2 separate regions of the Homo sapiens genome follow, and region 2 is linked to region 1. The links come from fine-mapping of genetic effects on gene expression. A gene starts in region 1. The other region holds a variant in brackets. All regions are shown on one strand. Distances are from middle to middle.

What was found.
Region 2: its variant is fine-mapped to the expression of VCPKMT in whole blood (TOPMed, PIP above 0.99).

The regions. Positions count from the first base shown.
Region 1 is chr14:50,114,962-50,117,878 of GRCh38, reverse strand. It overlaps VCPKMT (valosin containing protein lysine methyltransferase), which reads left to right and starts at 1,307. Exons shown (of 6, transcript NM_024558.3): 1 at 1,307-1,592; 2 at 1,700-1,810; 3 at 1,968-2,040. The coding sequence starts at 1,327. It overlaps SOS2 (SOS Ras/Rho guanine nucleotide exchange factor 2), which reads left to right. Exons shown (of 23, transcript NM_006939.4): 23 at 1-749. RefSeq lists an enhancer at 1,311-1,370.
Region 2 is chr14:50,236,570-50,239,486 of GRCh38, reverse strand. No RefSeq gene overlaps it. Among named protein-coding and RNA genes, the nearest start is that of SOS2, 6.4 kb to the right of the region's middle. RefSeq lists silencers at 1,784-1,923, 1,729-1,929. The variant G/A (reference allele first, on the strand shown) is at 1,254.

The DNA of each region.
Region 1 (2,917 bases):
GAATTGTGAATAACACCAACTGTTCTTAAACTCTTTAATGCCATGTCTTAAATGCCGGTATTTGCTGCTGAAGACAAAAATGAAAAGTAGGATGAAAATAATAGAATGGCACTGTAAGTGTTTATTATTTTGTCAAAATGTAAACAAAGACTACATAACCCAATGATGGAGGGAAAAAGGGCATGTATCTCATTCAGATGTGCCTTTTGTTTTTGCAGACTATGACGTCTTTAGCTAATGAATTGCCTATTGTTATGGAAAACAGTTAATATGCCATGTATGTACAGTTTTGTTTATATTGTATATTTAAAGATACTGCTAATAACCTATATAAATTTAAGTGACTTGAGGCCTATAATACAATCTGCTACTTTACTAATTCATAAATTCAAAAAAAATTCTATGGCATAGGAACCAACTGCCTTGCCTTCAAGACCTAGTAACTTTCTCTATAAATCTCGTGTTAACTGAAATTTTTTTTAAATATATTTTTTAGATTGGTAATATTTAAACCAGCAAATACTTAAAGCTTTATTAAACATTTTAATCAGATAAGTGAGTAAAGCTTTTATTTGCCATTTGGATGCCTTCGTTCAAAGTGATAGAGTGTTTTGCTGATAGTGCTGTAGCAGCAGTTGTAAAGTAGCCAAAAGCCACGTTGTTTATTTACTGGTTTGTGGCCTTTTACTGTGCTTTGTATCAGAGTTCTTAACAAGATTAATAAATCACCCCAGTCTTAATTTTTAAAAGACTTTTAAAATATGTGTTTTCATTATAAGGAACAAAGGGGGAGATTGTTGAGTCCTATAGACACACACACACACACACACAATTTTTTCTTCACTGTTAAATGTGAGCTGCAGGCTTCTAGCAACCACTTTTATGAATTCATACAAAAAACTAGGAGCATACTAGGAACTTGAAAAGGAAGATTGTAAGATTATAGCCATCTTTGGTAGGATCTTGGAAGCTGATTGCATTTAAGCCTTGTAACTACTATGTAAATCAAGTGTCCAACTTGGTAAACTCTGAGGTTGGCTTTGTTTTTTAAAGAGCAGATTATAATAGTTTTGTCTGGGAAAGTGATTTAAACGGCCTCTTCGTTAAGCCAAACGTGTGATTTAGGGTAGAGGGAGGCTGCCAAGCGCGTCGGGTAAGCAGGGGCCCCACGCTCGGCCCCGCCCAGGTAACGCTGCCTTCCGGGCTTTGTTAACTCGCGCGCGCTGCGTCGCCAACTCAGCGGCGGGCAGGGGGCGGAGCCGCAGGGCGGGGCGGTGCGCGTTGATGTGACGTCCCTGCGCGCGCCGCTTTCTGTTGCCGGGCGCAATGGCGGATACGCTGGAGTCCTCGCTGGAGGACCCACTGCGGAGCTTTGTGCGAGTTTTGGAGAAGCGGGATGGTACAGTGCTACGACTACAGCAGTATAGCTCCGGTGGCGTGGGTTGCGTTGTGTGGGACGCTGCCATTGTCCTTTCTAAATACCTGGAAACGCCCGAGTTTTCTGGCGACGGGGCCCACGCGCTGAGCCGGCGGTCGGTGCTGGAGCTGGGTTCGGGCACCGGGGCCGTGGGGCTCATGGCTGCTACCCTCGGGTAAGAGCTGGCGGGCGGGCGGGATGTGGGGGCGCCTTCTTGCTGGGGAAATCCGGATTACAGGCTTTCCCCCCTGTGCCTACACCTCAGTCGACGTTATTTTATAGGGCTGATGTTGTAGTCACCGATCTTGAGGAATTGCAAGACTTGCTGAAGATGAATATTAATATGAACAAGCATCTTGTCACTGGTTCTGTTCAAGCCAAGGTACTGAAATGGTTTGTATGGCCTTTCAGCTTGTTTTAAGATATTGATTTGTAGTTTGTTTTGAATTGCGTTTCATTAAAAGGATGGAAGGGGACTTTCCGGTTCTTTATAAAACAAGAGTATTTTGAATTATTAAAACAATTGAAATATTTGTTTGGCATTTTTAAGGGGGGAAGAAATAGAAGGCTTTCCTTCTCCACCCGACTTCATACTGATGGCCGACTGCATATACTATGAAGAGGTAAGTATCCAGTGAGCGAAGTCTCTTCACTTAGAAGATGAACCTTATTCCATGAATTCTAAAGCACACGTTTCTTCACATTTTAACATCTTTGAATCCGGGATTTGCCTTATAGTTGATGCAGTAAAGAGAAGATAAAAGTCACCAGGGACCATATGTATATACGCTCATCATTATCATACCGACCTGGTGAAGCATGTTGAGAAAAGTGTTATATGCATTTTACTAGAGGCTTCTGTAAAAATTTTAAAGGATTTTGCCAATTGGATGTTATGAAAAGCCAAAATCCTCTCTTTTTCCCTTGGTTGTTCCCACGGAACATGTTAACCATGACATTGAGAATTAAGTTATAAATAATTCATTGTTCTTTTCTTTAAATACCAGTTTGGGCCGGGCGCGGTGGCTCACGCCTGTAATCCCAACACTTGGGAGGTCAAGGCAGGTGGCTCACCTGAGGTCGGGAGTTCGAGACCAGCCTGACCTACATGGCAAAACCCTGTCTCTACTAAAAATACAAAATTAGCCAGGCGTGGTGGTGCATGTCTGTAATCCTAGCTATTTGGGAGTCTGAGGCAGGAGAATCGCTTGAACCTGGGAGGCGGAGGTTGCAGTGAGCCGAAATCATGCCATTGCATTCCAGCCTGGGCAACAAGAGCAAAACTCTGTCTCAAAAAAAAAAAAAAAAAAAAAAAACATCAGTTTGTATAGTGTTGTGGGCATCGATTATTTTAAAAATAATTAGCATTGAACCAAGTTAGGGTCAGATTTAACTTTTGTAGGGAAATCGTTGATTATTTAAATCCCAAATTAGATTAAATAAAATTAAACTTTTAAGAGTAAGGTTGATTCCATTTGTTTCCCATGAGAACTCCAAAAT
Region 2 (2,917 bases), 120 kb before region 1:
CTCCAGCCTGGGTAACAGTGAGACCCTGTCTAATGATAATAATAATACATTCATTCAGAGAATACAGAATCATTGGAAGGCTAATGAAGTAGATTCTGGTTGAGCTTTCAGGAACAAGTCCCAAAGCCACACCACAGAACCAGGCCACTAAGAGAGTAATTTCAAAACAATTATGATCCACAGAGAACTGCCACACCATGAGTCTAGCCATTGCTGCTGCCACATAAAACTAGTGACTGAATGGTGCTTGCTAACAGAAATATCAGAGTTGCGGCTTCCAACTCACTTCTGCCTTCTTCTTTTTTTTTTTTTTTTTTTTTTTTGAGAGGGAGTCTCGCTCTTGTCACCCAGGCTGGGTTGCAGTGGTGTGATCTCGGCTCACTGCAACCTCCACCTCCTGGGTTCAAGCTATTCTCCTGCCTCAGCCTCCTGAGTCGCTGGGATTACAGGCGCCCATCACCACGCCCGGCTAATTTTTGTACTTTTAGTAGGCAGAGTTTCGCCATGTTGGCCAGGCTGGTCTTGAACTCCTAACCTCAGGTGATCCATCCACCTCAGCCTCCCAAAGTGCTGGGATTACAGGCGTGAGCCACCGTGCCTGGGCTCACTTCTGCCTTCTATATCTCACTCTAGTGTATCTGATAGACTGGGAGCTATACTGAACAGATTACGAATACGTTCGTTGTTGACAGCTCAACTTCATTAACTGTCAGGAATTTGAAGGATTCTATTGCGATAACATAAATAACAAAAATTTGAATGATGCTTTTTTTCAGTCACTAGTTTTATGTGGCAGCAGCAATGGCTAGACTCATGGTGTGGCAGTTCTCTGTGGATCATAATTATTTTGAAATTACTCTCTTAGTGGCCTGGTTCTGTGATGTGGCTTTGGGACTTGTTCCTGAAAGCTCAACCAGAATCTACTTCATTAGCTTTCCAATGATTCTGTATTCTCTGAACGAATGTATTATTATTATTATTATTAGACAGGGTCTCACTGTTACCCAGGCTGGAATGCAGTGGTGCAATCATAGCTCCCTGCAGCCTTGAACTCTTGGGCTCAAGGGATCCCCATCTCAACCTTTCAGATAGCTTTTTTTTTTTTTTTTTTTTGAGACGGAGTCTTGCTCCCCCAGACTGGAGTGCAGTGCCACGATCTTGGCTCACTGCAAGCTCCGCCTCCGGGGTTCACACCATTCTCCTGCCTCAGCCTCCCGAGTAGCTGGGACTACAGGCACCTGCCACCACGCCAG[G/A]CTAATTTTTTGTGTTTTCAGTAGAGACAGGGTTTCACCGTGGCCAGGATTGTCTCGATCTCCTGACTTTGTGATTCGACCGCCTCGGCCTCCCAAAGTGCTGGGATTACAGGCGTGAGCCACCACGCCCAGCAATGCTTTGCCCTTTCACCTTGATTATAGGAGATGGTGTTTGGAACAGCTACTTCCCCCACGTACGATGACTTTCCACCTGGTGGTGGTGGCAATATTTGGATGACCTCGGTGGCATCTTCATACCTTGGAGAACCAGAAAACACTCTTTTTGCTCAATAGCACGTTGTATGTAACATATAAACATACAATGCCTTTTTTGTGGGGAGTGGGGAGGCATACTTTTAAATCGATCTTTTGGAGTTTCATACAAAATTATAGTTCCTCTTGGGAAGACCTTTTAGGTATGCTGTCTCTTACAGGGGGTTGGGCATGAGCCTCCCATAAGGGTCAGAGGACAAAGGCCTGTCTGAGGGCCTGCTTCAACTTCTTTCAGGCAGGTGGCTGTGAGAGGACCGAGCTGGCTATGGCAGCAACCCATGAAAGTGAGTGATAACAACATTTATTGTTTCCTGTGGCGTTGCTTTGCTTTGCTATTGACTGGTAGCGCTTGTAGCTTTAAATAAATTGAGGAAGTATGAGAGAGTAAATGGAAGAAATGTTGAGTAAGTCCTTCTTGAAAATGTTTTCAAGTGGGAGAATATTAGTGGTAAATTTCTAACTGTCTTTTAACATTTTAATTGGGCTTGGATCATTCACATTTTCCCCAAATCCTTTCTAAATTAAAAAAAAGGTAAAGGCCAGGTGCAGTGGTTCATGCCTGTAACGGGTGCAGTGGTTCATGCAGTGGTTCATGCAGTCCCAGTACATTGGAAGGCCGAGGCAGGAGGATCGCTTAAGACCAGGAGTTCAAGACCAGCCTGGGCAACAGAACAAGACCCCCATCTCTTAAAAAAAAAAAAAAATACAAATTACAAAATAAATTAGCTGGGCTTGGTGGTGCATACCTGTAGTCCTAGCTACCTGGGAGGCTGAGGCAGGAGGACCCCTTGAGCCTAGGAGTTCAAGGCTGCAGGGAGCTAGTATGATCACGCTACCGCACTCCAGCCTGGGTGACAGAGCGAGACCCTGTCTCTTAAAAAAAATTAATTTAAAAAGGGAAGCAAAATTACAATCTGTCAAATTATTGGCTGGGTGCAGTGGCTCTCGCCTATAATCCCAGCACTTTGGGAGGCTGAAGAAGGCGGATCACCTGAGGTCAGGAGTTCGAGACCAGCCTGGCCAACATGACTAAACCCCGTCTCTACTAAAAATACAAAAAAATTAGCCGGTCTTGGTGGTGTGTGCCTGTAATCCCAGCTACTCGGGAGGCTGAGGCAGGAGAATTGCTTGAACCTGGGAGGCAGAGGTTGCAGTGAGCCAAGATCGCACCACTGCACTCCAGCCTGGGTGACAGAGTGGGACTCTGTCCCGAAAAAAAAAAAAAATATATTAGCATGATAGTTAGCATATTTCAGTACAAATTTGTGATTAAGCTTTTTGTTATGTATACATATGCCCTCCCTCTTATAGTATCAGTGTGTTTAATACTTGCATTTTTTTGTTTTATTTTTATTTTTTTGAGATGGTCTCCCTTTTTTGCCCAGGCTGGA